4 separate regions of the Homo sapiens genome follow, and regions 1, 2 and 4 are each linked to region 3. The links come from fine-mapping of genetic effects on gene expression. A gene starts in region 3. Each other region holds a variant in brackets. All regions are shown on one strand. Distances are from middle to middle.

Region 1 (8,104 bases), 80 kb before region 3:
GAACCGCCCCCATGATTCAATAATCTCCCACCAGGTCCCTGCCACAACACATGGGAATTATGGGAGCTACAGTTCAAAATGAGATTTGGGTGGGGACACAGCCAAACCATATCACAATTACTATTTGGCTGAGTTTGCAGTAGTCCTCCATCATCCTCCAGGATCCATTCAATTCTTGCAGGAGTCAGTTTAGTGAATTAAATGGGGGGTAGATGGTGACCACGACCCCTGAATCTTTGAGATCTTCTAGAGAATTCAATGAAGAAGTAGTTTCAGCTGCATTTTACAGACAAAGAAACTGAAGTTTAGAGAGTTTTACAAATATTTATTGTAAAACTTTTTTTTGTCAAATCTGTTTGACTCACAAGCTTTTTACTTAATCACTAAGCTACCCAGCCAATAATTGTAATTAGAGTTAATTTAGGAAACTGAAAAAGAGATGACTAAATTGCTACATGTCCATAAAACTCCATCATGTTTTTTGTTAGAAATGTTATTAACAAGTCTAATTTTCAGATCAAAAGGGGCCAATTCTGCCTAATTTATTAAAAGTGGGAGATAATGCTGGGCACAGTGGCTTATGACTGTAATCTCAGCACTTTGGAAGGCTGAGGTGGGAGGATCGTTTGAGCCCAGGAGTTAGAGACCAGCCTGGGCAACAAAGCAAAACCCCATTTCTACAAAACATACAAAAAAATTAGCCAGGCATGATGGCACATACCTGTAGTCTCAGCTACTTGGGAGGCTGAGGTGGGAGGATCACTTGAGCCCAGAAGGTCAAGGCTGCAGTGAGCTGTGATCGTACCACTGCACTCCAGCCTGGGAGACACAGCGAGACCCTGTCTCAAAAAAAAAAAAAAAAAAAAAAAAAAAAAGTGGGAGATAAAACTCAGTGGAGAAAGTGTTAGTTTTTATTCCTGGCAGCTTTCAGACAAACTGTATTTCCTAAACTATATGCCAGGATGTTTCCTCATTTAATTTTTCCAGAATTGTAATGGAAAAAGAAAGAGGAAAAAAAGTTGCCACCCAAAACTAAAATATCCCTTTCCATATGGAGCAAAGCAGCATGAGGCTGTTGAGAGCCAGAGGATCAACTTTGTGCAAATGAAGCAGTGCAAGGAATGGCTCTCTGTGTGTCCTTAGGCAAGTCACCTCATGGATCTCAGTTGTTTTTTTTTTCTTGAGATGGAGCCGCACTCTGTAGCCCAAGCTGGAGTGCAGTGGCGTGATCTCGACTCACTGCGATCTTTGCCTCTGGGGCTCAAGCGATTCTCCTGCCTCAGCCTCCCAAGTAGCTGGGACTAGAGGTGTGCACCACCACACCCGGTAAATTTTTTTGTATTGTTAGTAAAGACGGGGTTTCATCATGTTGCCCTGGGTGGTCTCAAACTCCTGAGCTCAAGCGATCCACCTGCCTCGGCCCCCCAAAGTGCTGGGATTACAGATGTGAGCCACCATGCCTGGCCTGGATCTCAGTTTCTTTATCTGAATAATAATAATATCTGAATAATAATTATATAATATATAATATATATTTGTATATTTTATTATTATAATTATTTTATAATTTATCTGAATAATAATTATCTGAATAATAATAGTATCTACCTCAGAGGGTTGCTATGTCTCGCTCATCTCTGAGTCCCTAAAATATGTGGCACAAAGTAGCATTCAAAGAATATATGCTGAATGAATGAATAAATGAATTTTGAAGATTAAATGAGATGATGTACTTACATGGTGTATGGTAAATATTAGATTCTATAAGCCAGGTGCAGTGGCTCACGCCTGTAATCCTAGCACTTTGGGAGGCCGAGGTGGGTGGATTATTTGAGGTCAGGAGTTTGAGACCAGCCTCGCCAACATGATGAAACCCCATCTCTACTAAAAATATAAAAATTGACTGGGCAGACCTGATGGACGCCTGTAATCCCAGCTACTCAGGAGGCCGAGGCAGGAGAATCACTTGAGCCTGGGAGGCAGAGGTTGTGGTGAGCTGAGATCACACCACTGCACTCCTGTCTCAAAAAAAAAAAAGATTCTATGGTAGCGATTTGATGATACATATTGAAGCTTGAAAAACATGCATGTCTATTGATCCAACAATTCCATTTCTGAAAATGGAAACTTAATCCTAATAACTTTAGTAATTTAGAGTAAATTAATGATTATGATAATCTTGGTTAGTCAGGGCCGGGCGCAGTGGCTCATGCCTGTAATCCCCACACTTTGGGCGGCCGAGGCAGGCGGATCACGAGGTCAGGAGATTGAGACCATCCTGGCTAATGCAGTGAAACCCTGTCTCTACTAAAAATACAAAAAATTAGCCGGGCGTGGTGGTGGGAGCCTGTTGTCCCAGCTACTTGGGAGGCTGAGGCAGGAGAATGGCATGAACCTGGGAAGCAGAGCTTGCAGTGAGCCCAGATCGCACCACTGCACTCCAGCCTGGGTGACAGAGCGAGACTCCGTCCCAAAGAAAAAAAAAAAAAAATTCTTAGCTATTCAGATAATTAAGAATGCACCAGATATTTAGGTAAAAGAAGGCTCTTGGAAAAACAGTCTAAATGTCCATCATTTTTTTTGGTGAAGAATCTACATGTGTGACATACAGAAAGATTTGATAAGACTATACGTTAAGGTGGTGGTTCTCAAAGTGTGGCCCAGGGACTGGCAGCGTCAGTGTCATTTGAAAACTTGTCAAAAAATGTAAATTCTTGGGCCCCATCCCACATCTACTGAATCAGAAATTCCAGGGTGGGACACAGACATCTGGATTATTTTTGTTTGGTTGGTTTTTTTTTGAGACAAAGTCTTGCTCTGTCACCCAGGCTGGAGTGCAGTGGTGCAATCATGACTCACTGTACCCTCAACTTCCCAGGCTCAGGTGGATTCTCTCACCTCAGCCTCCCAAGTAGCTGGGACTACAGGCACACACTAGCATGCCCAGCTAATTTTTGTATTTTTAGTAGAGATGGGAGTTCACCATGTTGGCCAGGCTGGTCTTGAACTCCTGACCTCGTGATCTGCCCACCTTGGCCTCCCAATGTACTGGGATTACAGGCATGAACCATGGCGCCCGGCCCATTTTTTGTAGAGATAGGATTTCACCATGTTGCCTATGTTGATCTCAAACTCCTGGGCTCAAGTGATCCGCCCACCTAGGCCTCTCAAGTGCATTCAAGTTTGGGAATCACTGCTCTAACCACTGTTACTAGAAGTTGTTTATGAGTGAGAGTATGAATATATTAATACATATGTTTTAGAGACAGTCTCTCTCTGTCATCCTGGCTGGAGTGCAATGGTGCAATCACAGCTCACTGGGGCCTCCAACTTCCGGACTCAAATCATTTTCCCACCTCAGCTTCCCAAATAGCTAGGACTATAGGTGGGTACCACTGTGCCTAGCAATTTTAAAGATTTTTGTGGCGATGGAGTCTTGCTATATTGCTCAGGCTGGTCTCAAACTCCTGGGCTCAAGCAATCTTCTGCTTCAGCCTCCTAAAGTTCTGGGATTATAGTTGTGAGCCGCTGTGCCTGGACTTAATATTCTTATATTTCCTGGCTTTCCTGGAGTAAGATTACATTACCAACTGATATAAGAAATACCTACTAAAATTTTATTTTGAAAAGAAGAAAAAGTAGGCCAGGCACAGTGGCTCACACCTGTAATCCCAACTCTTTGGGAGGCTGAGGTGGGAGGATTTTTTGAAACCGGAAGTTTGAAACCAGCCTGAGGAACATAGTGAAATCCCATTTCAAAATAAAAGCTTGGTCTGGTGGCCTGTGTCTTTAGTCTTGGCTACCTGGGATGCTGAGGTTTGCTTGAACCCAGGAGGTTGAGGCTGCAGTTTGCTGTGACTGGGCAGAGGCACTGGAGCCTGGATGACAGAGCAAGATCCTATCTAAAAAAAAAAAAAAAAAGAAAAGAAGAAGAAACAAGAAGGAAGAAGGAAGAAGATCCCGAGTAGAAGTGAAAGGGGAGAAAAAAGTTATGAAAACAAACAAAAAACAAGAGAAAAAAAAGCATTCTTATCTCCCCAACATAGTTTCTTCTCCTGCCTTAGCTTTCTCCCCACATGAATGGAATGGTATGTACTTATGAGGTTGATTGATATCCCTGTTATTTTGTAGCTGCTTTTGTTTTCATTTAGTATTGCACGGCATTCCTGTATGAGGGAAGTCTAGCTAAACTTTAAAAAACATTACACAGCAGCATTTCCCATGATGTCACAGTCTTCAGAATAAGATATATATGTGTGTATATATATGTATATATATGTGTATATGTGTATATATGTATATATGTGTATATGTGTATATATGTATATATGTGTATATATGTATATAAGTGTATATATGTATATATATGTGTATGTGTGTGTGTGTGTGTATATATATATATTTTTTT[T/A]TTTGTTTTTAGAAGACAAGTCTCATTCTGTCACCCAGGCCGAAGTTGCAGTGGCAGGATCACAGTTCACTGCAGCCTTGAACTCCTGGGTGCAAGTAATCCTCCCATCTCAGCCTCTGGAGTAGCTGCGACTACTGGCATGCATCACCACACCCAGCTAATTTTTTTTTTATATTTTTTGTAGAGACAGGGTTTGGCCATGTTACCAAGGCTGGTCTTGAACTCCTGACCTTAAGTGATCCACCCACTTCAGCCTCCCAAAGTATTGGGATTATAGGCGTGAGCCACCATGCCCAGCCACACCCAGGTAATTTTCAAAATTTTTGCAGTCATCATTTTTTTAAAAAGGAGACATTCAGGTTACTTAATAGAGTTGTGCCCTTGATCACCCATTTCCCTTAGTTGTTTCCAATTTTTCACCAACATAAATAATGCTGCCACCAATATTTGCACATACACCTTTTCCTAAATTTCAAATTATGTCCTTAGGATAGATTCCCAGAACCTGGGTTGCTGGATCAAAGGGTAGGAACATTTTTATGGCTTCTGCTGGGTGTTGCCAGACTGCTCTCCCGATGAGTGGCTACTGGTTTATGCTGCCGTTAGCGTCGTACAAGACTGCCAGTTTCCACTAGGCCTTCCTAGTGTGAGGTATTATGATTGAAAATAGTTTTGCTATTTTAATGAGAAAATAAACTACCTCTCCATTGTTTTAACTTTCTTTGGTTATGAGAGACAATTTTTTTTTTTTTTTGAGACAGAGTCTCGCTGTGTCGCCCAGGCTGAAGTGCAGTGGCACGATCTCAGCTCACTGCAACCTACACCTCCCGGGTTCCCTCAGCCCCCCAAGTAGCTGGGACTACAGGTGCCAGCCACCACGCCCGGCTAATTTTTGTATTTTTAGTAGAGATGGGGTTTCACTATGTTGGCCAGGCTGGTCTTTTTTTTTTTTTTTTTTTTTTTTTTTTTTTTGAGACGGAGTCTTGCTCTGTGGCCCAGGCTGGAGTGCAATGGCACGATCTCTGCTCACTGCAAGCTCCGCCTCCCGGGTTCACGCCATTCTCCTGCCTCAGCCTCCCGAGTAGCTGGGACTACAGGCGTGCGCCACCTTGCCCGGCTAATTTTTTGTATTTTTAGTAGAGACGGGGTTTCACCGTATTCGCCAGGATGGTCTTGATCTCCTGACCTCGTGATCCACCCGCCTCGGCCTCCCAAAATGCTGGGATTACAGGCATGAGCCACCGCGCCCGGCCCCAGGCTGGTCTTGAACTCCTGATCTCATGATCTGCCTGCCTCAGCCTCCCAAAGTCCTGGATTACAGGCATGAGAGACAATTAACAGCTTCCCCCACCCCTTAAAAATAAGCTAGTTAAGGCCGGGCGCGGTGGCTCACGCCTGTAATCCCAGCACTTTGGGAGGCCGAGGCGGGTGGATCACGAGGTCAGGAGATCGAGACCATCCTGGGTAACACGGTGAAACCCTGTCTCTACTAAAAATGCAAAAAATTAGCCGGACGCGGTGGCGGGCACCTGTAGTCCCAGCTACTCGGGAGGCTGAGGCAGGAGAATGGCGTGAACCCGGGAGGTGGAGCTTGCAGTGAGCCGAGATAGCGCCACTGCACTCCAGCCTGAGCGACAGAGCGAGACTCCGCCTCAAAAAAAAAAAAAAAAAAAAGCTAGTTAATACTTCTTCTTTAGTAAATTGGATTGGGAGGAAAGCTCTGGCATGCTCACAGTTTAACCTCTCTAAGCCTCAGTTTCTTCATCTCCAAAATGGAGTGGTACCAAAGTGATTGTAAAGTCAAGTGAGATAAAGTCTGGGGTAACTTCTTTTAACAGTGTAGGTATTCATTACCATAATCCCACTCAGCCTCAAATTTACCTAATATTTACCTGTGTATCATAAAACCTTCTGCTTTGTCAATAATCTTTTTTTTTTCCCCTTTTGAAACGGGGTCTCACTTTGTCACCCATGCTGGAGTTCAGCGGCATGATCTTGGCTCACTTCAACCTCCACCTCCCGGGTTCAAGTGATTCTCCTGCCTCAGCCTTCTGAGAGTAGCTGGGATTATAGGCGCGCACCACCACGCCCAGCTAATTTTTGTATTTTTAGTAGAGACGGGGTTTTGCCATGTTGGCCCGGCTGGTCTTGAATTCCTGACCTCAGGTGATCTGCCCTCGGCCTCCCAAAATACTGGGATTACAGATGTGAGCCACCATGACCGGCCAGCAATCTTGAAAACTTCCACCGCATCCCAAATCTTGAAAAACCTCTCTCTCTTTGTGTGCGTATGAGACAGAGAGAGAGGAGTGAGAGACAGAGGAGAGAGAGAGGAGAGAGAGGAGTGAGAGACAGAGGAGAAGGAGAGAGGAGAGAGGAGAGAGAGAGAGACAGAGAGAGACAGAGACAGAGAGAGAGACAGACAGAGAGAGAGAGAGACCTGAGGTCTTAGAAGACCTGAGGTCTTAGAAGGCTGGAGGCAAGGTCCCTCCTTTCCATTCTTTAATTTCCTCCGTTTTTCGAGGGAAACACTACGACTTGTTTGGAGTCTTACGGATAAGAGCCCTCTGTTACTAATGATATTAATAATGGCATCTGTTAATGAGGACGTCGTTATTATCTAACATTGGCAGGAGAAGAAAGCTCCGCGGCACAAGGGAGCAACCTCTCGTGTTCTGCAGACCCGATTTCGCATTTGGGAGAAGAGCTCTACTCCCCACAAAAGTCAGTGACACTCCAGACCCTGCAGAGACGCCTCCAGGGTGCGAAGTGGACTCTGGCCGACCTGTCAGGGGCAGCAGCCAGAATCCATCAGTTAACCACTCTGAAGGAAGTTTCTGCTTCAACGTTTTCCCCGTTGCTAGGAAACACTGCTTTGCCGCTGCTCATTGGTTAGCGCCCCCTCTTGTGTCTATGCCCTGTAATAGCACCCACAGTTGAGCAAACAGTAAAGACTAACACATGATTTAAATCGTCTTTATTGTGAAATATAACATACAGAAAAGTATCTAGGATATACATACAGCTTGGAAAATAGATATTGTGTATCTATTGTGTAACCACCACCTACAAAAACAAAGCATTGCCAGCGCATTAGACACTGGCCCTGCTTCTCTCCCTCCTTCTCCCCAGCAGGTGTTTATCTTTTCACTTTCCTTACAGTTTTATTACCTGTATGTATGTATCCTTTTTTAATATTTTATTTTCTTTGTTTTCTGGCTGCTCCTCCAATTTGCCCTGCTTGTTTCTGCCTCAGGGGCTTCGTACTTGCTATTCCTTCTGCCTGAAACACTTTTCCTCCAGACAGCCGCATAGCTAGTCCTTCACTTCCTTTGCCCAACGTCATCTTTTCAGTGAGCACTTCCCCAGCACTCCCTGTCCCCTGCTTTTTTTTTTTTTTTTTTTTTTTTGACACTGAGTTTCACTCTTGTCACCCAGGCTGGAGTGCTCACTGCAACTTCCACCTCCTGGGTTCAAGCGATTCTCCTGCCTCAGCCTTTCAAGTAGCTGGAATTACAGCCACCCACCACCATGCCCACCTAATTATTGTAGTTTTAGTAGAGACAGGGTTTCACCGTGTTGGCCAGGCTGGTCTCAAACTCCTGACCTCAGGTGATCCACCTTCCTCGGCCTCTCAAAGTGCTGGGATTACAGGCGTGAGCCACTGTGCCCAGCCCCCTCTTCTTACATAGCACT
Region 2 (8,104 bases), 450 kb after region 3:
TGTCGGGGACAGCCAGAGGTGTGCACTGCAGCACCTGGATGAATGTTGCGGCTGCTGTGGCCTCACCTCCCTCATCGCCCCCCTTGGGACAAGGACTGACCCTGCCTCGGCTGATAAAGAGCTCACTATGGTCAGGCTCCACGCCAGAAGCTGGGACTTGGCTCTCTCCTTCTTTTCTTCAGCCTGGAGCTGAAGCAGAAATTTCTCTCTCATAATTTTCACTCCATGAGCCTTCGCCCTACAGTTAGGGGCATCAGAATCACTTACAGTCTCGATGCCATCACATCAGCCGCCTTCTCACTTCCAAGTCAAGTGCAAATTTGATAAGTGAGTTTCATGGTCTCCATCTGGATCTGGATCTGGAGGGAGGGCCGGGGACTTCCTCTGGGCTGTTGACACCCCCCAGCCACCTCCCAGGGCACACAGGCATTGCAGGCACTGTTCCCCACTGCACGTTCCCCATCTTCCCACAGACACGCTGTGGGAACCCTGCCTCCACGGCCTAAGGAGACGCACTTACTGGGCCTGTCTTCCTGGGGTTCCAGTGGGCTCTTTGTCCAGGACCGTGGGCCACTGTTCACAGTCCTCTCCTGCCTTGTGCCTGTGGTCAAGTCCAAGCTCGTGGGAGTGTAGGTTTGGATGTCAAAATGCCCCCTACAGGTTCTTAAGGTTCCCCTGGAGTCACCAGGTTTGGGGGCATCCCCCATCCATTCACCCTCAGAGGGCTGCAAAGCTGGGTTCTGAGACCTCCCAGACTGCAGGAAGGGCAAGCTCTGGGCTTGGAAACCTGGGCTCTTTCCAAGTGGTCAGACCCCTATTGTGTCCCCAAGGCCACTGGAAATCCAGCATCTACGTGGGTTCAGGAGGAAGCCGGGGTTTTCCCCTTTATCTTCCTCATAGACAGTTCTGGCTACACCACTGCCTCTCAACAAAGAAGGAATCTCTCAGCTGGTGCTTGAGGATCCCCGAGCTCTGGACTTCCTGGCCTCATCCCCACCTCCCACCTGACTCCCACCTGTGCCCAGGTCCTGGGAAAACTAGAGTCCCTCTGGTTTCCAATCGGGCTCACCCTCAAAACCTACTCCCAGTCTCCCCTGAGAGAACGTGGAATGCCAACCCCTTCCTTGGCTCTGGTCCTCTCCCCACTCCAAGGCCTGTCCACACCATCCCCTTCTCCAGGAGGCCATTCCTGGCAGCTCCAAACCACTCATGCAGTCCTGCTCCCTCAGTACCCTTTGTGACTCTCAGAATAAAAGTAGCCCCCTTACAGGTCATGTGAAGGTTAAATAAAGTGCTGTAAGTATAAATCTTGGGATAGCACCTGGTGTGGCTGACAGTTACTAATCACGTCGTACAGACCAGGCTATTTTTATTATATCCATGTTATAGATGAGGAAACTGGAGTGCAGAGAGGTTGAGTAACTTGCCTGAGGTCACAGAGCTGCACAGAGAGGCTAAGTCACCTGCCAGAGGTCACACAGCTGCACAGAGAGATTGAGTAACTTGCCCGAGGTCACGTAGCTGCACAGACAGGTTAAGTCACTTGCCTAATGTCACAGAATTAATCAGTGCAGAGCTGGATTGGACCCAGACACTCTCGCCCCAGTCCGTGCTCCTGACTTCAATTCCCCTCTTATGAGAGGCTCTACCTCCTGACTCAGACTGTGGGCAGAGTCTGTCTCTCATCACTGGAATTCCTTGTTGGGTCTCAGCTCTACCTCTCAAAGGGTGGGACTTTGATGCGCAATTATAGAAAAGAAGGAAACTTCCTTTGGGGGAAGGAATTTCTTTTTTTTTTTTTTTTTTTTTTGAGACGGAGTCTTGCTCTGTCACCCAGGCTGGAGTGCAGTGGCGCGATCTCGGCTCACTGCAAGCTCTGCCTCCTAGGTTCTTGCCATTCTCCTGCCTTAGCCTCCTGAGTAGCTGGGACTACAGGCACCCGCCAGCACGCCCGGCTAATTTTTTTGTATTTTTAGTAGAGATGGGGTTTCACCGTGTTAGCCAGGATGGTCTCGATCTCCTGACCTCGTGATCTACCTGCCTCGGCCTCCCAAAGTGCTGAGATTACAAGCGTGAGCCACCTTGCCTGGCCCTTTGGGGGAATTTCTTATGGCTTCAAATGCTTTCACTGAAGAGAGTTTATTCTATTTCTATCCCTCAGTCATGCTCATCGGCTTATGTTCCCTTACTTCAGTCACATTAGGAACCAATACGGAGCTGTTATGGAGTTCGAATACCAGCTTGGGTTCGAATACCAGCTCTTGCTGTGTGACCCTAGGCAAACCACTCCATCTCTCTGGGTCTCGGTCTCCTCTTCTGAAAAACGAGGTGGGGGAGCCGGGGTCAAGGGGAGCGTAAGGTGAGATGGATGGGCACAAGCACAGGAGCAGACTCCAAGGAAGCACAGAGGAGGAGGACGCCAACAGAGCAGACGCTGCAGCCGTCATCCTCTTGGGGCAGGACTGATTCCAGGCACTCAGCCATGTGAAGACCCCCACAGGTTTCCATGGCAACTTTGCCACTAACCACGCAGATGCCCAAGGGCTGGTGATTAGCCTCCCTGGGCTCAGTTTCCCCACCTGTGAGGTGAGGGCCCGTCAGCTCCATTGCTGCCTGTGCAGCTGAGGTTCTAAGATTTTGCCTTTGATGTGGAGCGGTCTCATTTTTGTGGCTGCCATGGTGACCATCTCACAGCACGGCTCCACGTTTCCATGAGCAGGACACAGTTATGACATAACCTTCTTAGCCTTTCTAGGGCTTGTCACAGGCTTTCAGGGGACACAGCAAACAGTAAAAGCTCTGCAGATTCAACGAAGGCCAGCTGGGTTTGAACCAGCCATGCAGGGGAACCTCCAGGTGCGGTGGGAGCCAAGACAGCGAGATAGCTGAGGCTCAGCGGCACACACAGGAAGCATCGACCCTGTGTGGGATGACAGAGGCTAGGACAAACGCGGGGACCTGGTGCAATAGCCGCGGGACCAGCAGTGCCACGGTGATGTCTAATGGACAACTGTCAGCGAGTGCTATCAGCCCCACTTTCCTTTTTTTTTTTTTTTTGAGACAGAGTCTTGCTCTGTCACCCAGGCTGGAGTGCAGTGGCTTGATCTTGGCTCACTTCAACCTCCCCCCACCACCACCCTCCACCCCCAGGTTCACATGATTCTCCTGCCTCAGCCTCCGAGTAGCTGGGATTACAGGCGCCCGCCTCCACCTCACCCAGATAATTTATTTTATTTTATTTTATTTTATTTTATTTTATTTTATTTTAGTAGAGACACGGTTTCGCCATGTTGGCCAGGCTGATCTCAAACTCCTGACCTCAGGTGATCTGCCCGCCTCGGCCTCCCAAAGTGCTGGGATTGCAGGCATGAGCCACCGCACCTGGCCAGCCCCACTTTCAAGGGACATCCAGAACCCAGCTTTCCCC[C/G]ACCCCTGCTGCCACCCCTCTGGTCCCGCCACTGTCATCACTTGCCTGGATCATTGCAGTGGCCTCTCTGGGCTCCCTCCCTGCACCCACATGCCTGAGTCCCTGCCACATGCAGCATCCAGGGCTCCAGGTCCCCATCGCTCCTCCTCTGTCCAGAAGAGGCTCCCTGCCGGGGGTAAAGGCAGAGTCCTCCAGGGCCCTGTGTGAACTGCTGCTCCTTGACTTCTGAGTCCTCACCTCCTCTTACCCTCCCCCGGCTCCCCCTCAGTCACACCAGCCTCCTTGCCATTCCCCCAACAAGCCAGGCACCTGCAGGCCTCTGGGCCTTTGCACTGGCTGAGCCCTGGGCCAGGCTGGCTCTTCCCAGATGTGTACACAGCTCACTTGCCCACTTCCTTTAGGCCATTGCTTCCATTCCATCTAACATGCCAACACCACCTACCCACCCCAGCTCGATCTTTCTCCTAAGCACATTTCCAATCAAACACACTACATATAACCTCTATTTACCACCATTATTGTCTGGCTTTCCTCACTGAAATGAGAACCCTGAAGACAGGAATTTCCTTGTATTGTGCACTGTGGTAACTGCTCAGCAACTGGAACAGTTCTGGCTCATAGAGTAGAAGCTCAATAAATATTTATTGAATAAATAAATGAATAGTGTTTGCTGAAAGAACCTTCACACTCAGGAATATTTTAAGTGTTGCTGCAATTCCCGACCAGCAAGATGCAGAGGAAAACCTTGAGAAGAGGACCCAGAAGGAAACCACAGTATTTACACAGTGGCATCCAAAAGACTGAAATATGCCAGCTCAGAGCTGGAGCCTGGCCAAGGGGTACAAAGGTTCTGACAAGGACTGCACCATGCAGAGGTCACTGCCCGCTACCTGGGGTATGAGACTCTGTTCCATTCAACAATATTCTAATGAGACAGTCAATGTCCAAAAGAAGACTCCTGACAGGAGGGACCGAGCCAAGGCAGCTGAGCCAGCTAGGAGGATTGAGTGACAAGCACATACCCATGCCAGAATTAGAGGCCAGGCAGGAGGTTCCACAAAGGTACCTCCTGGGTGCTGAGTGCTGAGACTACAAAGCCAAAGAAATGAGTTTCTGACCTCATGTAGCTGAAAGCTTAATAAGTACAACAGTAGCAGCAGCAGAGCAAACCCAGAGCCCAGTGCTCACTATGCCCCACATACTGTTTTTCCCCGATTTTTTATTGTGGTAAACTACACACAACACAAAACGTATCATCTTACTCATTTTCAAGTGTACAGTTCAGTGGACTAAGTACATTCATAGTGCTGTGCAGCCATCACTACCATCCATCTCCAGGACTTTTTCATCCTCCCAAATTGAAACTCTGCCCCCATTAAACACGAACTCACCAATCCCCCTCCCCTCAGCCCCTGGCGTCCATCCTTCCACTTTCTGTCTCTACAAATGTGACTACTCCAGGACACTCTTTATAAGGGGATCGTATGGATCTGCCCTTTTGTGAGCAGCTCATGTCATCTGGCACCTGCCCTCGAGATTCATCCACACTGTAGCATGTGTCAGAATGTCCTTTGTTTTTAAGGCTCAACCATATTCCACTGTGTGCATAGACCACAGTTTGTGAATCGGTTTATCTGTGGTTAGACACTGGGGTTGCTTCCATCTTTTGGCTGCTGTGAATAACACTGCTATGAATGTGGGTGTGCGAGTATCTCTTCGACGCCCCGCGTTCAATTCTTTTGGGCATATGCCCACAAGTGGGATTGCGGGATGCAATGGTGAGTCTATGTTTAATTTTTTGAGGAACCACCACAACGTTTCCACAGTGGCGGCACCATTTACATTCCCACCAGCAAGGCACAAGGGTTCCAATTTCTCCACAACTTCACCAACAGACTTCTTATTATCTATGTTTTTTTTTGTTTTTGTTTGTTTGTTTGTTTTGAGACGGAGTCTTGCTCTGTCACCCAGGCTGGAGTAGAGTGGCACAATCTCAGCTCACTGCCAGCTCCGCTTCCCGGGTTCACGCCATTCTCCTGCCTCAGCCTCCCGAGTAGCTGGGACCACAGGCACCCGCCACCACTCCCGGCCAATTTTTTATATTTTTAGTAGTGACGGAGTTTCACCTTGTTAGCCAGGATGGTCTCGATCTCCTGACCTCGTGATCCGCCCGCCTCGGCCTCCCAAAGTGCTGGGACTACAGGCGTAAGCCACCGCACCCGGTCCCTTATTATCTACGTTTTTGATAGTAGCCACCCTGGTGGGTGTGAGGTTGCTTCTCGCTGTGGCTTTGACTGGATTTCTCCTGATGATGTTCAGCAGGACAAGAAAGTCTTTAAAGTGCTTTGAAAATATTGACTCACTTAAACCCCCAATAGCCCTATAGGATAGTTACCATTATTATCCCTGTTTTATAGATTTAACATTTCACTGAGGCAGAGAGAGGCTTGGTAACTTGCCATAGGGTACAGAGGCTAATACCATGAGTGGCAGAGCCGGGATCTGAACTCAGAGTATCAGACTCCAGAATGCAAGAGTTCCCAGAGAAGGGGTGTGGCACCCCCTGGTCAGCAGATTCCTCCCCGGAAGTAATCATCCCCACCCGAGGCAGCTTAGCCAAGATGGCGGGTATTGAGTGGTGCGGTGACACTGGACAGGGGGTTGGAAGAGCTCACACCAAGGCTGAATGAAGCTTCGGTAATACTCTGCTTTCAACTCATTTCCCCGCTGCCATACAGAAAACTACACTCAACTCCATTTTCCTAAAAACGCCATGCATCAAAATATTAGATAAGGGGTAGTCAGCATTTGATTTCTAAAAGGCAAAATGTGAGTGCACACAAGGGCACTAAGCAGAATGATTCTCTTAAGCAACTCTATTTTTGAAGTATCAACAGCCTCATTTTCTGGGAAGATTACTGCATGTAGGAGGAGCTCCGCTGTGCGACAAAAGCTAAATTAGGGAGGACAAAAGGCCACGGTTTTATCTGACGAAGAGGTAACCCAGCACCCATGCTTTTCCAAGTGCCTCGGTGGTTATGTCAAATGGCTCTGATACCCGGGGCCCCCAGAAGCAGAACCCCATTAAGACGGGGTGAAGAACACAGGCCACCGATGGAAGCTGTGTTTCCACCGCTGGAAATAGCTGCACATGCCTGACTGGGGCCCCAGCTTCTGACCAACAGGTGATGCGCCACTCAGGCAGCAGCCCCTCCACATAACTACAAGCCCTGCCTCCACTGTCGCATCTGAGGACAGAGGGCACTTCGGGCCACAGTCAGCCGTCACGTTGACCTGGAGGTCCTGGCTGGCATCACAACGCTGCCCTCTGACCTCACTTTGGCTTTATCCCTTTGTTTTCTGATCCAGATGAGATGCTCCACCCACATCGGCGTGCAGCCTGGCCTTGGTTTGATTGCAGACTCAGCAAACATGAACCGAGCCCGCTCCCCATGGCTAGGCCACACCCTGGGGACGCACTGGGGTCCTGAGGCCTCGCTGGCCAGGAGGTGCCCAGGCTGGACACGGAGGCCTGATGGCAGTGCCACAAGGGCGCCATGAACACACCCGGCCCATCAGTCCCCATGTCCAGCCCTCTTCCCTGCTCCACACCTCCAACTGGTGATCAGGAAGGCTAAGATGTGCCTGAAACCATTCTGAGCAGAGGTTGGTCCAAACCCCCCTGCACAAAGGTGTTAGTGAGGGATGAGCTGCAAAGAGCAAAAGGGCAGTAGGCAAGGTTTCATCACAGCCAGCACCGGCTGCAGGAAAACCAGCTCAAGCCCCCTTCGGTGACAGGCTTTGGCATTTGAGTAAAGCCCAAACCGCAGGCAAACACTTTCAACGACACAGCTCCCTGGCGCTTCCTACTCGTTTTCCTCCCTCCTCCTCCATGGACTCAAGTCCAGGTTCTACCACTCTACTGCCCAGCGAGCAGCAGGTGGCAGAGCCCTGCACCGGAGGGCTCTCCACAGCTCAGCTTAGAATCCTGGACGGCCCTGCCTGTCCCCACATTAGAGATGAGGAAACCGAGGCCCAGGGCTGCCCAGCTTTCCCAGGCCGCAGAGTTAGCCACCTGCGACCCGGGGCCTCCATGCGGTCTCTGTGCATCCACACAGCCTTCCTGCTTCCCCAGCATCCTGACAAAGCTCCAGATCCGACAAGGCACATCCACACAGCCCTCCCCCAACCTCCCTCGACAATCAGAGCGGACGCACTGGCAGGAACGTCTGGAAGACCAACCTCCACGTCAGGCAGCTCTAGAAGCTGCTTTTGTGTTAATTCAAAACTAATTTTCTGGTACCCAAGAAGGAACCAGGAACAGGTTCTTTTCTTTCCAAACCAGCTGGGCTTTAACAGAGAACACGCATGGCTGACCACCCCCCAGCACCCCAGCCCAAGGGAGGGGAGCCACTGCCTCTCTCCCCTAAAAGAGGCAGACCGGACACTGGGCTTCGGTGCTGCAGCCAGGGGTTCCTGAGGACGGCTCTGCCTTGTGAGACGGAGGTCTGTCCCCTGATCCTGAGGACACCTGAAGGGCCCTCTCCAACCTGGGGCAACAGGTGTATTGCTATGGATGGGGCTGGGGCTCCCACACGCAGGGCCTATGCTTGTATTGGAAGAGTAGAATATGTGCCCAGATTCAAATGGCTGCATCAACCCAGTCTCAGTCTGTGG
Region 3 (8,104 bases):
GCTGGGCATGGTGATGCGTGCCTGTAATCCCAGCTACTTGGGAGGCTGAGGCAGGAGAATTACTTGAGCCTGGGAGGTGGGGGTTGCAGTGAGCTGAGATTGCACCACTGCACTCCAGCTTGGGCAACAGAGCAAGATTCCATCTCAATAAATAACTGAATTAATTAAATAAATAAAATAAAATAAACTGATCTGGCTGGGCGCAGTGGCTCACACCTGTAATCCCAGCACTTCGGTAGGCTGAGGCGGGTGGATCACCTGAGGTCAGGAGTTCAAGACTATCCTGGCCAACATGGTGAAACCCCATCTCTACTAAAAATACAAAATTTTGCCGTGTGTGGCGGCGGGTGCCTGTAGTCCCAGCTACTCGGGAGGCTGGGGCAGGAGAACTGCTTGAACCTGGGAGGCAGAGGTTGCAGTGAGCCGAGATCACACAACTGCACTCCAGACTGGGCAACAGAGGGATACTCTGTCTCAAAAACAACAACAAAAACTGATCAAGTTACCTTCTTGCTTTACGCCATCCAGTGTTCCCTGGCGTTAGTGTTCCCACATAAAATTAGTGTTCCCATATAAAATACGAACTCCTTGCCTTGGCCTGAAAGGTTTCAAGTAATCTGGCCCCTGTCCACCTCTCTGTCCTCATTTCCTCAGTGGAAGACTGATCTCATTCCATTCCAGCCATAGCCCGCCCTCCCTCTCTCCCTCCCTCCCTTCCTCCCTTCCTCCCCTCCTTTTTTTTGAAACAGGGTCTACTTTGTCACCCAGGCTGGAGTGCAGTGGTGCGATCACAGCTTACTGCAACCTCTGCCTCCCAGGCTCACCTCTGCCTCCCAGGTTCAAGAGATTCTTCCACCTCAGCCCCCCAAGTAGCTGGGACTACAGGCGTGTGCCATCACACCCGGCTGATTTTTGCATTTTTTGTAGAGACAGGGTTTCACCATGTTGCCCAGGCTGGTCTTTAACTCCTGAGCTTATGTGATCCACCCACCTCAACCTCCCAAAATGCTGGGATTACAGGCATGAGCCACTGCGCCCAGCCAGCCACAGCCTTTTCTTTTCTTTCTTTCTTTCTTTCCTTTTTTTTGAGATGGAGTCTCGCTCTGTTTCCCAGGCTGGAGTGCAGTGGTGCCATCTTGGCTCACTGCAAGCTCCGCCTCCCGGGTTCACGCCATTCTCTTGCCTCAGCCTCCCGAGTAGCTGGGATTACAGGCGCCCACCATCACGCCCGGCTAATTTTTGTATTTTTAGTAGAGACGGGGTTTCACCTTGTTAGCCAGGATGGTCTCGATTTCCTGACCTTGTGATCCACCCGCCTCAGCCTCCCAAAGTGCTGGGATTACAGGCGTGAGCCACCGTGCCCGGCCCAGCCACAGCATTTTCTTAAACACATCAGGCTGGTTCCCACCTTGAGACCTTTTTTTTTTTTTTTTTTTTTGAGGCAGAATCTTGCTCTGTCGCCAGGCTGGAGTGCAGTGGCGCGATCTCGTCTCACTGCGAACTCTGCCTCCCGGGTTCACGCCATTCTCCTGCCTCAGCCTCCTGAGTAGCTGGGACTACAGGTGCCCGCCACCACGCCCGGCTAATTTTTTTGTATTTTTAGTAGAGACGGGGTTTCATCGTGTTAGCCAGGATGGTCTCGATTTCCTGACCTCGTGATCCTCCTGCCTCGGCCTCCCAAAGTGCTGGGATTACAGGTGTGAGCCACCGCACCCGGCCACCACCTCGGGACCTTTGCACCTGCTGCTCCCTCTGTCTGGGAAGCCCTTCCCTCAAAACTTTGCCCAGCTGCTTCATCTGTTGAGGTCTTAGCCCAAATGTCTCCTCCTCAAAAAGTGCCCTCCCTGACCTTTGCTGAAGTTGCCCCTCCACGCTCCAGGAACTCTCTATTTTATTTTCTGAAGAGCTCTTATTTTCCTTATCTAATCACTTTCTTCCTTCTTGCTGATTTCCTACACTAAAATGTAAAGTCCCCAGGGGGCAGGGGCCGTTTGTGTCTAACACCCTGCTGCGTTGCATCCTTGTTGTACAGATCTGCACTGTCCATTATGATAGCCACTACCCATAGTGGGCTATTTAAAGTTAAGTTAATGAAAAATAAATATAATTAAGAATTTGGTTCCCCAGTCACACTAATTCCATTTCAAGTGCTCAATAGCCACATGTGGCTAGTGGCTATCATATTAGATACTATACTGAAGATGTAGAACATTTTCAACATTGCAGTGTTCTATTAGCTTTGGTCTAGAACCTACGTACCTCATAATAACAGGTGTTCAAGGGGGGTGTCAATTTAATAAAGATTTTTTTTTTTTTTTTGAGACGGAGTCTCGCTCTGTCGCCCAGGCTGGAGTGCAGTGGCGCGATCTCCGCTCACTGCAAGCTCCGCCTCCCGGGTTCACGCCATTCTCCTGCCTCAGCCTCCCGAGTAGCTGGGACTACAGGCGCCTGCCACCACACCCGGCTAATTTTTTTGTATTTTTAGTAGAGACGGGGTTTCACTGTGTTAGCCAGGATGGTCGTGATCTCCTGACCTCGTGATCCGCCCGCCTCGGCCTCCCAAGTGAATAAAGATTTCTTTTATCCTTATCTTATGAGTGAGAAAAACATAGCCCAGAGAGGTTGTTTCATTATCCCAAGGTCACACAGCCAGGAAGGAGCCTAGCAGAGATTTGAAGCCAGGCTTGTCTGGCTCTGAAGCACACACTACTCCCTTTCCCATCCAGCAGCCTCCTGGCTGTTTATGGAAGGATTGCTGCGCAGGATATTAAGGGATCTGCAGTCAATCCTGACTCCATCCCAGATTCATTGGCTGTGTGACCCTCAGCAAATCCCTTTGCTTCTCGGCCTCAGTTGCATTGCTAAAAAAATGAAGAAACTGACCCTGCCGTCCTGAGGGTTGGGGATGCGAGGCAGGGGGCCTTGTGTGACTCAGTTCATTCCCCAGATCCTGTCTGGCTCAGGGGCGGGCAAGCATCGTGGGTGAGGGGTCTTTTGGTTGGCCTGACCAGCTTTGGTTGATAGCTCCTGTTTCTTGAATGCCTACAGATGAGAAAGCGGAGGTAAAGTAACTTGGCCAAGGCTACACAGCAGAAGAGGCAGAAGTGGGATTCGAACCTGAGACTCTATGATATTACGTCCATGCCGCAAGACAGAGCTGGCACCTACGGGAATAACAAGGAGGTGGTGGCAGGGTAGTGAGCTCCCCGTCTCTGGGGGTGTGTGCAATCCGGCGCTGCGCTGTCAGCAGGGCAAGGGCTGGGGCCGGGGCCAAGACCACCAAGCCAGGCCCAGGCCCGCCCGCCTCCCGCGGCCGCCACGGCCAAGGCGTGAGCACGGGGCGGGGCGGGAGCTGCTATTTCTGTCTGGTGAGCGCAGCCCGCGCAGCTGGCGAGGGAGGGGGCGCCCGCGCCGCCATATTCCCTCCCGCCGGCCGGCTCCGCGGCGCGCAGCCACCATGAGCACCGCCGCCTTCCACATCTCCAGCCTCCTGGAGAAGATGACGTCCAGCGACAAGGACTTCAGGTGCAGCCCGCCGCCGGCCCCCTTCTCTCCTTCCCGCTCTGAAGCCGGGGGCCTTCTTCCCCTCTCGAAGCGCCAGCCCATCCCCCATGACCATGCAGCCCCCTGCCTCTTCTCTCTTCTCCCTGCATTAAGCTGCCCCCCTCCCCACAGGCCCACTCCTGCCTCGTGGTCCCCACTGGAGCTCCGGCCGTTCTCCCCTAGGGGCCGTCCTGCCCCTCCGCGACTCCAGTCCCTGCTTCGTCTCCCACCGTGCAGGCTTCAGCCCTACCTCTCACCCCCGATCAGAGCCCCGGCTCCACCCCTCTGCACCCTGCCTCGGCCTCTCCTCCCTCGTGTGTGTCCGGCCCCCTTCTTCCCCCGCAGCTGATGCCCCAGCGCCCCCTCCCCCCCGCCCCCACCACCTTCAGCGAGCCCACAGTGAAGCCCTACGCCTCTCCCTGGGGACCCCAGCACCTGCCTCTCCTCCGCATTGAACCCGGACCCTTCCCGGGACCGCAACCCCCAGCTGACTTTCTCACTGGCACCCTCAGTGATGCCTCCTTCTCAACATCACCCGGACCCCTCCCTCCCCGTCTCCCTCCCCTCCTGCGATTGTTCAGACCCAGCCTAAAGGAGGGGGCTGGGCTGAGTCTGGCTTTCCAGTCACAGGTAGGTGATGGTTGGGGTGGGACCTTCTAGGTTTTGTGTGCCACTCTCCTTCCCCACTCCCTTTTTCCTTCTTTCCCCCTCTCACAGCATCACAGAACCACAGGAATAGAGCTGAAAAGAACGGTGGAAACATCTGGTCCAATGAGTTTCCACCTGCATTCCCTGGGGAAACTGAGGCCCAGGGAGGAAAAGGGATTGGCCCGTGGTCTCATGGCCAGTTCTGGCCCCTCCAGCTGAAAGAAGACCTTGGAGACTCAATGAACATTTTTTCACTTTGTCCCCATTTTACAGATAGGGAAACTGAGTCTCAGAGACATGAAGGGCGTAGGTTCAGTCACAGCGAGGAAGTGGGAGACTTAGTCCAAATCCAGGCCAGTCTAATACAGAGGCCAAGATCTTAGTGAGGTCCTCTGATTCCAGCCCCCTGACAGGTGAGGAGACAGACCTGCTCTGGTGGTCTGACTCCTACTCTTCTCCTGCAGCCCATTCCTCAGTACCCCTCAAGAGCCCCCCCACATTAATAGAGCCTGGGATCCAAGGTCTTGGCTTCAGATCCCAGCTGCCGTCACTCACTGGCCGTGTGACCATGGACAAGTAACTTAACCCCCATGAGTCTCCCTGTGCTTCTGTTTCTATAAAATGGGGATAACAGAACCCATCTCTGAGGGTTGGGGTAAGGATTAAATAAGATAGTACATGTGAAATGCTCAGGTTCATGGCAGGCACTAGGTCGGTGCTTCATAAACGGACACTGTTATGATTCTGTGCACATCCAAAATCTGCCACGCCCTGTCCCCTCTCTAGACCTTCACTAGGGGGATTCTTTGCTCTCCCTTGACCTCCTCCCTTCATCTGACAGCTCCTATAACTCTTGACCCCAGGCAGGATTAGGTACCTCCTTTCAGCTCCCATCATGCCTCCCCTCATGTTTCTGCTAGATCACTTTTCAGCCCTGGGAGACCCTGAGCTCCTGGGCCACTGGGACTATGCACTTCCTCTTAGTGCCCCAACACCTGTGCTGAGTACACGGTAGGTGCTTAGTGAATGTTCGCTGGGTCCCAGGCTCCCTACTGTGCACCCCACGTGTAATCTCAGTCCACCCATGGGTGGTAGTGATTGTTCTTCCTGTTTTCCGGAGGCTTGGAGGAGTGCAGTGACTTGCCCAAGGTCACAGAGCTGGCTAGTGGCCTAGGGGATTTGCGCTAGTGTCTCTCAGGCCTCTGGTCCAGTCTCTGGGAGAGGGAGTTGGCCCTGCCAGCTACAGCCCGAGAAGCCCTTTCAGCCTGTCTCTGCCAGTGGCCTGGAGAACACTTAAAACCACCCCAAGCATGTGAGAATGGTGTCTATTTTTAAAGTCCGAATACCAGGGTGCTGGGTCCTGCAGACCAGCTGTCCAGGCGTCCGTGTGGCCAAGGGTTTCAGCTGAGTTGCCTCTAGGGTTTCTCTGTAATGAAACTGAGACTGTCCTCTGGTTCCTGGAGCGGGGCAGCGACTGCAAATGGGGGTCCCAGGTGGGGTGGAGGGAGACCTTTGTTTCCTGTTCTTCCTGGGCCCTGGCTTTATGGGCAGGAGGTGCCCCATTACCACGGAGGCTCCAGCAGTCAAAACGAGTACCCTTGCAGGTCTTGCAGGAATTACCAAGTCATTTCTTGAAAACACAGTAGTATTATTGGTTGAAAAGCCAGGAGACCTGTGTGGTGGGCTGGTTTTCCGCCCAGTTTGCTGTTACCGTAGGCAGTTTGTGCAGCCTCCCTGAGCCTAGTTTTCTTACTACCTCATGCTAAGAGCTAGATTGTCCTATTGAAACCTCCCAAGGATACTATGAGGTAGGGCAAAGAAAAGTTCCCATTTTATATATAGAAAATCTGAGGCCCAGAGAAAAGGAGGTAGTTGCCCAATGTCACCTAGTTGATAAATGGCAAGACTAGTAAGTATACTCACTTAAAGCCAAACTTTGGTGCTCAAGCTCTTATCCACCAAATTATATACTTTTCCTTCTCTCTCCCATCCCTACACACATACACGTATAAAACATGGCTTGCTTTCTCCGAGAGCTAGTGTCTGCAGGAACCAGGGGTGTCTGAAATGCTGAGGCATACTTCAGAAGAGTTGGTTTCTGAATTCGGACTATTTGGCTGTAAGTTCTGTTAAGGGCTAGCTCTCTCACTACCTCTCCTCCTGCTCTCACCCTCCCTGACAAAGCCCTCTGCAGACCTGTTCTTTGTTGAGCCTGGAGTCCCAGAGATAAACCTGATGAGCCTCTGCCCTCAGTGAGTGTACAGTCCAATGGAGAAGATGCTCTGGTGGCCAGACTTGTATTGCAGTGTGAGAAGTGCTATAAAGGAGGGGTGCAGAGTGCTCTGAAAGGATCTTGTCCAGGGAACCATTGTGCTTAGGGGCTGTGGATGCAGGGGTAGGGCAGGGAGGTCAGTCATCCTTGAGCTGGGACATTTGAGCTGGGCTCTTGATGGGTGAATAGGAGGAGCTCAACAGATGAAGAAGAAGAGCGGGGATAGAAGGCCTATCTTGGGCAAAGAGGCACATCGCCTGGGTTGCCAGGCTGAGCTGGGCCCCCATGGACTGCAGCAGAAACACAACTTGGAGACCCTGGGTGCCATCTCAGAATGTCCCCTCAGCTGAGCAGACGTAGGGGTGCATGTGCTCACCTCAGGCCTTGGCCTGGCTCAAATCCAAACCTCCTCCTTCACTTTACCTTTGCCCAGAGGTGGGCACAGTCAGTCCTGCCATCCTGCCCATGCTGCCAGCCCAGCCTCCTTCTCTCTCCTAGCAACTTGTGGCTAATCTACCTGTTAAAAATAAATAGGTCATCGACCAGTCCACCCCTGGTAACAGGGCACTGTGGGCTGCAGTGACATCTAGGAGCAGGTCTGAGTCTGCACAGATGAGAGCCAGAATCCCAACTGTGATAGATTTTGCCACAGGAGGCGGGGGTCAGGGCTCTTGGTTGATTTGCTCAACCATGCTGGAAAGCAGGGCCAGCGTGGGGTGGTAGAGTGGCCCAGCAGGGTCAGTAAAAGCTGGAGGCTTTCTCCGAGGCAGCCTTACAGTATCTCCTCGCTGCTCTGTCCTGTTTTCTCCTGAGACTCCGCTCTCACATGCCTGCAGGAGCCAGTCAGTGGGTGAAGTGGGCCTAGTGGGGACCAGGTGAACTGGGGAGAGGGCAGCCACAACCTGATTCTAATCAGGTATTGTCACCAGGGATTGTAGGCCCCGTTGTACTCAAATATTCTGTTTTCAAGATAATCTGGAAGTCAGTGTTTTGTTTTTGTTTTTGTTTTTGTTTTTTTTTGAGTCTCACTCTGTCACCCAGGCTGGAGTGCTGTGGCACGATCTTGGCTCACTGCAACCTCTGCCTCCTGGGTTCAAGTGATTCTCCTGCCTCAGCCTCCCAAGTAGCTGGGACTACAGGTGTGCACCACCATACCTGGCTAATTTTCGTATTTTTAGTAGAGATGGGGTTTCCCCCTGTTGGCCAGGCTGGTCTCTAATTTCTGACCTTAAGTGATCTGGCGACCTTGGCCTCCCAAAGTGCTGGGATTGCAGGCGTGAGCTGCTGCGCCCAGCCTGGAAATCAGTATTTTTTTTTTTTTTTTTTTTTGAGATGGATACTCGCACTGTTACCCAGGCTGGAGTGCAGTGGCACGATCTCAGCTCACTGCAACCTTTGCCTCCCGGGTTCAAGTGATTCACCTGCCTCAGCCTTCCCAGTAGCTAGGATTACAGGTGTCTGCCACCGCGCTCGGCTAATTTTTGTATTTTTAATAGAGACAGGGTTTCACCATATTGGCCAGGCTGATCTAGAACTTTTGACCTCAGGTGATCCACCCGCCTCAGCCTCCTAAAGTGCTGGGATTACAGGCGTGAGCCGCCATGCCAGGCCAAAGTCAGTATTTTTGTGTCAACTTTCCCA
Region 4 (8,098 bases), 25 kb before region 3:
CACACCCCTTATAGCTTGTCCAGGAAGCAAAACTTGTGGAAGTGTCATAGTTACGGACTCAAGAGCAGAATGGAACACTAAGGACCATCATTGCCCCTCAGCCAGAGACCACAGTGTGTCTGGAATTGGTGGGTTCTTGGTCTCACTGACTTCAAGAATGAAGCCACAGACCCTCGCAGTGTTACAGTTCTTAAAGGCGGCGTGTTCGGAGTTTCTTCCTTCTGGTGGGTTCACGGTCTCGCTGGCTCAGGAATGAAGCTGCAGACCTTCGCGGTGAGTGTTATAGCTCTTAAGGCGACGCGTCTGGAGTTGTTCGTTCCTCCCAGTGGGTTCGTGGTCTATGCTGGCCTCAGAAGTGAGCCTGCAGACCTTCGTGGTGAGTGTTACAACTACATAAAGCCAGCGTGGACCCAAAGAGCAAAACAACAAAGCTTCCACAGTGTGAAAGGTGACCCCAGCGGGTTACCACTGCTGGCTGGGGCAGCCTGCTTTTATTCTCTTATGTGGCCCCACTCACATCCTGCTGATTGGTCATTTTACAGAGAGCCGATTGGTCCGTTTTGACAGGGTGCTGATTGGTGCATTTACAATCCCTGAGCTAGACACAGAGTGCCGATTGGTGTATTCACAATCCCTTAGCTAGACATAAAGATTCTCCAAGTCCCCACCAGATTAGCTAGATACAGAGTGCCGACTGGTGCATCCACAAACCCTGAGCTAGACACAGGGTGCTGATTGGTGTGTTTACAAACCTGAGCTAGATACAGAGTGCTGATTGGTGTTATTTACAATCCCTTAGCTAGACATAAAGGTTCTCCAAGTCCACACTAGACTCACGAGCCCAGCTGGCTTCACCCAGTGGATCCCGCACCGGGGGCCGCAGGTGGAGCTGCCTGCCAGTCCCGCGCAGTGCTCCCACAGTCCTCAGCCCTTGGGCGGTCGATGGGACCGGGCGCCGTGGAGCAGGGGGCAGCGCTCATTGGGGAGGCTCGGCCCTGCAGGAGCCCATGGCGGGGCGGGGCGGGGCAGGGCGGGCCGGGGCCGGGGCCGGGGCGGGGCGGGGGGGGCGGGGGGGGCGGGGGGGCGCGGCCTGGCGAGGCACAGGCAAGGCGCACTGCAGGTCCTGATCCCTGCCTCTCAGGGAGGCAGCTAAGGCCCTGCGAGAAATCGAGTGCAGCGCCAGTAGGCTGGCATTGCTGGGGTACCCGGCGCACCCTCCACAGCTGCTGTCCCGGGTGCTAAGCCCCTCACTGCCCGGGACTGGCGGGGCCTCTCCAAGTGCGGGGCCTACCAAGCCCAAGCCCACCCGGAACTGTAGCCGGCCCTCAAGTGCTGCGTGCAGCCCCGGTTCCCGCCCGTGCCTTTCTCTCCATACCTCCCGGAAGGCTGAGGGAGCCGGCTCCGGCCTCGGCCATCCCAGGAAGGGACTCCCACAGTGCAGCAGCGGGCTGAAGGGCTCCTCAAGTGCGGCCAGAGTGGGCGCCGAGGCTGAGGAGGCACCAAGAGCAAGCGAGGGCTGCGAGGGCTGCCAACACGCTGTCACCTCTCAACAGGAGCCACCCTTAGTTAAACAAGTTAAAAAGGCTCCACCTTCTGGAGCAGGAGGTGAGTGGAGGGGTAATAAAATGAGGCTGGGACAGGGTGCAGGGGCTCACACCTGTAATCCCAACACTTTGGGAGGCCAAGGCAAAAGGATTGATTCTGGCCAAGAGTTCAAGACCATCCTGGGCAACATAGCAAGACCCTGCCTCTACAAAAAATTCAAAAAACATTAGCCTGGAGTGGTGGTGTGTACCTGCAGTCCCAGCTGAGATGGGAAGCTGAGGCGAGAGGAGTTGGTTATGAAAGGGACTTAGAGGTTACTCCATAGGAGTGGGTGTCCCCAAGTCAGCCCCTCTAATTCCTGGTGGTTCAGGAGATAATCATAGCTAGCACCAATAATACTGAATCACATAATCAGAAACAAGTTCCATTTTCAACGTGTCTGGGCCCTTCTGATTAAGAATAACATGGTGTTTATGACTCTGGAACCAGACAGCATGGATTTGGATCCTGACTGTGACTTACCAGCTGTTTGACCTCAAGAAAGTTACTTAACCTCTCTGAGCTCTGGTTTCCTCATCCATAAAATGGGGATAGCAATCGTACCTACCTTATTGGGTTGTTACATTAACTTAGCTCACTTAAACTGCATATTGGTGACTTATTACATCTAGGAGAAAGTCTCTGTGTACTGTTAATGTGTTTTTAACATGCCTTGCCCATTTTGAGCCCATGCTCACTTTTAATAAAGTATTAGAATGTATCTCTGTGGAGACACACTCTAATTTTCAGCAGACAATGCTATCTAATTAGAATGTAATAATAACCTTGTTCCACTTTCCTGGTATTTTGTCTTTTTTAATAGTTATTTTCAATTTACGGCAGATAATACTGGGTTTCTGTCTTGGGTAGTAACATAAAGTTTCCTTTAAAAATAAATTATTTCGCTTGTTGGCAGGGAGAGGGAGAACATCAGGAAGAATAGCTAATGGATGCTGGGCTTAATACCTGGGTGATGGGATGATCTGCGCAGCAAACCACCATGGCACACGTTTACCTATGTAACAAACCTGCACATCCTGCACATGTACCCCTGAACTTAAAATAAAAGTTGAAGATGAAATAGTAATTATTATTAAAAAAGAAAAATTTTTTTAAGATGTGAGTTAAAAAGTTATAATGTGTGGGCGGCAAGCCACCCAGGTGCCGAGGCAAGAGACCAAGGACATGAGCTGTTCCAGTATAATAAAATATAAAACAAGAATAGTTATACTAGATATAGATCTTAGATATGATTATATATGAATATCATTAATCATTAGTTTGTAGCAATTACTCTTTATTCCAATATTATAATAATCCTTGCTCTATAATCATAACCTAGGAAAAACCAGGCCATACAGAGATAGGAGCTGAGGGGACACAGTGAGGAGTGACCAGAAGACAAGAGTGCGAGCCTTCTGTTATGCCCAGACAGGACCACCAGAAGGGCTCCTTGGTCTAGCGGTAATACCAGCATCTGGGAAAACGCCCGTTGCCAGGCGGACCATGGTCTAGCGGTAGCGTAAGTGTCAAGGAAGAACACATGATGCTTAGCAGACCGGGAAAGGGAGTCTCCCTTTCCCTGGGGTAGTTTAGAGAAGCCTCTACTCCTCCACTTCTTGTGGAGGGCCTGACATTAGTCAGGCTCGCCCGCAGTTATCCGGAGGCCTAACCATCTCTCTGTGATGCTGTGCTTCAGTGGTCATGCTCCTAATCCGCCTTCATGTTCCATCCTGTACACCTGGCTCTGCCTTCTAGATAGCAGTAGCAAAATTAGTGAAAGTACTAAAAGTCTCTGATATGCAGAAATAATGGCGTAAGCTGTCTCTCTCTCTCCGTCTCTCTCTCTCTCTCTCTGCCTTGGCTGCCAGGCAGGGAAGGGCCCCCTGTCTGGTGGACACGTGACCCACGTGGCTTTACCTACCATTGGAGATGACTTACACTCTTTACCCTGCCCCTTTTGTCTTGTATCCAATAAATAACAGCGCAGCCCGGCATTTGGGGCCACTACCAGTCTCCGTGACTTGGTGGTAGTGGTTCCCTGGGCCCAGCTGTCTTTTCTTTTGTCTCTTTGTCTTGTGTCTTTACTTCTACACTCTCTCGTCTCCACACACGGGGTGAAACCCACCAACCCTGTGGGGCTGGTCCCTACAATAAAGTAATTTTAAAACCTTAAATATTCCTGGGTGCACTGGCTCACACCTGTAATCCCAGCACTTTGGGAGGCCGAGGCAGGTGGATTACCTGAGGTCAGGAGTTTGAGACCAGCCTGGCCAACATGTTGAAACTCTGTCTCTAGTAAAAATACAAAAATTAGCTGGGCATGGTGGTGCATGCTCCCCAGCTACTCAGGAGGCTGAGGCAGGAGAATCACTTGAACCTGGGAGGTGGAGGTTGCAGCGAGCCGAGATCACACCACTGCACTCCAGCCTGGGTGATAGAGTGAGACTCTGTCTCAAAACAAACAAACAAACAAAAACCTTAAATATTAAAATATGTAATAAATAATACAAGTGGTTATAGATGTGGCAAATGTTCTGGAAGTGGTATGTGAATGAATGAAGTTTGGGAGCTTCGTTGTTGAGAGAAATCCTGGAGAATCCCTGGAGAGGTTTAAGCAGGAACACTCAGACAAGAGCTGCACTATAGGAGGCCTGACTCGAGTGGGGCCAAGGCTACTCTAAAACAGAGACAGGAGGCAGACAGTCCTCTGTCCTGCCTGGGGCTGAGATGGGCCAGGGACAGGAAGGAGGGGGAAATTCAGGAAATTTTGTGAATACTCATCTTACAAACAAATTGCAAATAGACAGCTTTGACACAATCTGAACACTGAATATAGGGCATTGAGTTATTTAAGGAATTATTTTTATTTTTGTTACGTATGAAAATGGCATGGTGGTATGTAAAAAACAGGCTGGGCATGGTGGCTCATGCCTATAATCCCAGCACTTTGAGAGGCCAAGGTGGGCAGATCACCTTAGGTCAGGAGTTCAAGACCAGGCTGGCCAACATGGTGAAACCCCGTTTCTACTAAAAATACAAAAATTAGC[C/CA]GGTGTGGTGGAGCACGCCTGTGGTTCCAGTTACTGGGGAGGCTGAGGCACAAGAATCACTTAAACCTGGCAGGCAGAGGTTGCAGTGAGCCGAGATTGTGCCACTGTACTCCAGCCTGGGTGATAGAGTGAGATTTCATCTCAAAACAAACAAAGTCATACATTGGCAATGGGGGCTGAAGTGATTACTTGTGTCTGGGATTTGTTTTGAAGCACTTGAGCAGCAGAAAAATGTGGAAGAGGGAGAGACGAAGCAAGATTGGCTAATGTTGGTAACAGTGGAAGCTGGGTGATTTGCTATATTATTGTCTAACTGGGTATATATCAAAATTTCCTTAATAAAAGTTTCCAAGGATGCAGTACCTCACTGGATCCATGTTCCATGGCATTAGAGAGGCAGTACTGTTTTCAGAAATGTCTGGACTGTGTATTCCATATCTTTGTTTAAACCCAGAATGAAAGCATTTAGTGACTGGACACCAGGACACTCCTTGCTATAAATGTTATGGAATCTCCGGTTGTGATTTCTTTTGGGCCTGGTGATTCCTTTCTAGAGTTGTCGGATCTACCAATATAGTTCACTTCTTTAGGAGGGTTCAACAGTCTCTGGCAATAAATAAGAGGGGGTTGTTGACCTTTATGACAAATACAGGAAGGGAGGGAAGAAGTAAAGGGAGGGAGGGAAGGAGAGAGAGAGGGAGAGAGGAAGGAGGAAGGGAGAGAGGGAAGGAGGGAGAGAGGTAAGAGGGGAGGAAGGAATAAAAGAGGAGGGGAGAGGGAAGAAGGAAGTGTTACCAAAATACCAGGGGTTTGGTCTAGGTCCTGCTGCTTGCTGCACAGAAATCAATTACTGAGACAAGTATTGCCAAGGAAGAAGCCTTTAATCAAGTGCTACAGCTGAGGAGATGGAAGCTCAGTCTCAAATCTATTTTCCTGACTGACTAAAACCAGCGGTTGGTATAGCAGGCAAGAAATGTAACAATGTGTAAGAAAACAGGAACTTGGGAGGGGCAAGGAGGCAATCATGGTGAATGAGGGGTCAGGCACCTAGTTCAGTCACCTGGTTTCAGTTCTTTGATACTTTTTGTGAGAGGCCTGAAGGTCCTTTCCTGAGGAAGGAACTCAGATAAAACAAATGTAAGTTTCAATCTTTAACAGCAGAATGGTCAATTTCTATGTTTATCCAAAAACAACTGTCTATGGGATTCTTGGGCCCCTTTCAGAAGGAAGAAAAGGAGCAGGAGGAAGGAGAGAAGATAAAGGAGAAGGCTCTTGAGATCATCTTGAGACCCAAGCCCTAAGTGTTTGGAATGGGCTCATCTCTGTTGGAAGGAGACAGTGCCTTCAGCCTTGGAATTCTCCCAAGAACTCTGGGCAGTAACTCTTCTGAGTGGTTTGAGCTGAGCTCAAGCCCAGGCAGATGTCACAGGACCATTTGTCCCACCCACCCAATGACAGGAGCCTGAGGATGTGCACATGCAAGCATGTGTGGCGGGACTCCTATCCACTTCTATACCTGGAGAAGGCAACTGCTCCTCAAGGCTTGGCTCATGAGTCCCCTCTCCCCCTTCCCTCTTCTGTGTCCCTGTATTAGTCAAGGTTCCAACAGAAACAGAACCAATAGACTTTATGTAGATGTACCGGAAGAGATTTATTGTGAGGGATTAGCTCCACAGTTATGAAGGCTGAGAAGTTCCATAATCCTCCATCTGCAAGCTGGGGGTCCAGGAAAGTCAGTAGTGTAAGTTCCAGTACCAGGAGCTCTGACATCAGAGGGCAAGGGAAGGTGGGTGTCCCAGCTCAAGCACAGGCAGCAAATTTGCCCTTCCTCCACCTTTTGGTTCTGTTAGACCCTCAGCACATTGAAAGATACTTACCTGCACTGGTGAGGGCAGATTTCTTTACTCAGTCTACTGCTTTAAATGCTGATCTCTTCTGGAAACAGACACACCAGAAATAATGTTTTACCAGCAATCTGGGCAGCTCTTAGCCTAGTCAAGTTGACACATCAAATTAGCCATCACCGTCTCCATGATTCTTCCCTCAGCCGTGGCACACATCGCACTGGGCGGTAATTGTTGGTCAGTTAATGTCTCCCCTACCGGGCATAACAGTAATAGAAATAACTAACAGCTACCATTCACAGCAGCTTGCCCTGTGCCAGCTTTTCTCCCAAGAGCTTTACCTCATGAGGTAGGTGCTATAATTTCTACTCTATAGAGATGAAAACTGAGGCTCAGAGAGATTGAGTCACTTGCCCAAAATCACACAGCAAGAGGGGACTGAAACGCAGCTCTGTCTTCCCACAAAGCAGTTGTTCTTAACCACATTTCTAACCAGCTTGCCTCTAGCTCCCCCTGTGCCTAGCGAATGGCTGGCTCCTTGGTAAATGCTTGAAGAAACACTCACCACTCTGACTCGACTTCCCTCCCAGTCTGGGGAGCCTGCCACCCTCCCCCAGCAACTTGCCTGCCTCATTCACTCCCAAAAGGTGCGATGGAATGAGAGTTCCACCTTGTTCACTTCAAGCTACAAACGTCTTTCTCCATCCCAAAGAGAAGTGGCTCAGTTTTATAAATAGCCCTAAGCTGGGAGCTGAGAGACCCCATTTTGAGCTCTGGCTCTGGCTGTGTGACCTTCACAAAATCACATAACCTCCATGAGTTTCGGTTTCTTTGTAGGGCAAATGGAGAAACCCCTTGTCCCTTGAGGGAAGGCATCTGACAGTGCTCAGCAAATGTTCTTTTCAGTTCTCCAGGAGGGGTTAAAGAATTCTTCCAGCATCCTGCTGAGGTGGGCTGGGGTGTCACACACACAGCACCAGGCCATGGACAGAAGCCTCTGCCGAGACCCAGGCAGAAGAAGTGGGGCCCAGAAGGAGCAGCCTGGTCCCCCCACAGGGCCAAGCAGATTGACTTCTGGAGCAAGGGGCTGCATCTGGGGGACTTCTCTGCAGGCAACACCTGAAGCCCTGACCATGGGCCAGTATAAATGAGGAGGATGGTTTGTTAGCCAAACCCACCTTCAGACACCTGCAGGATACCTATCAGCTGGAGGCTCTGGGAGTGAGCCAGCCCTGCCCCTCACTGTAGGGGTGGGAGATGATGGAAATGAATCTTTATTCCCAAATTCTACAAAACACTGTCACAGCCATAGCTTTCTTGTCTTCCTTGCTCCTCACCACTTCTCTCAGTTCAGTCCATTGCTCGAGCATCTACACTGTGCCAGGCACTGTACCAGGTGCTAGGTGGCAGGGAGGGTAAGTGCTATTGCATTTAACAACAAAGGGCGAAGTAGTGAGGCCAGAACTTGAATGCAGGGACTCTGCTCTTAAAACCCCACTTCTTCCTACTACTAACTCTCTTACAGCCAAAAGAGATTTCTCAGTCAGCTATGGAGACAGAAAAAACAGCAGGAAGGGAAATTGAAGGTGAGACAGAGGAGACATAGGAAAAGGGAGTGAT

Direction of the effects. Positions count from the first base shown, and alleles are read on the strand shown. Sizes are in standard deviations (SD) of each study's normalised expression. Not every link is listed here.
For the expression in skeletal muscle of the gene that starts at base 3,417 in region 3, allele A in region 1 goes with a lower level than allele T (moderate effect, 0.41 SD a copy in FUSION).

What was found.
Region 1: its variant is fine-mapped to the expression of CAND2 in skeletal muscle (FUSION, PIP 0.91).
Region 2: its variant is fine-mapped to the expression of CAND2 in amygdala (GTEx, PIP above 0.99).
Region 4: its variant is fine-mapped to the expression of CAND2 in lymphoblastoid cells (GEUVADIS, PIP 0.95).

The regions. Positions count from the first base shown.
Region 1 is chr3:12,712,928-12,721,031 of GRCh38, forward strand. No RefSeq gene overlaps it. Among named protein-coding and RNA genes, the nearest start is that of TMEM40, 42 kb to the right of the region's middle. RefSeq lists an enhancer at 7,099-7,148. The variant T/A (reference allele first, on the strand shown) is at 4,409.
Region 2 is chr3:13,247,380-13,255,483 of GRCh38, forward strand. It overlaps a transcript of IQSEC1 not described here. Among named protein-coding and RNA genes, the nearest start is that of NUP210, 170 kb to the right of the region's middle. RefSeq lists enhancers at 6,397-7,206, 7,207-8,015. The variant C/G (reference allele first, on the strand shown) is at 3,428.
Region 3 is chr3:12,793,264-12,801,367 of GRCh38, forward strand. CAND2 (cullin associated and neddylation dissociated 2 (putative)) reads left to right here and starts at 3,417. Exons shown (of 15, transcript NM_001162499.2): 1 at 3,417-3,525. The coding sequence starts at 3,458.
Region 4 is chr3:12,767,876-12,775,973 of GRCh38, forward strand. It overlaps a transcript of TMEM40 not described here. Among named protein-coding and RNA genes, the nearest start is that of TMEM40, 13 kb to the left of the region's middle. The variant C/CA (reference allele first, on the strand shown) is at 4,635.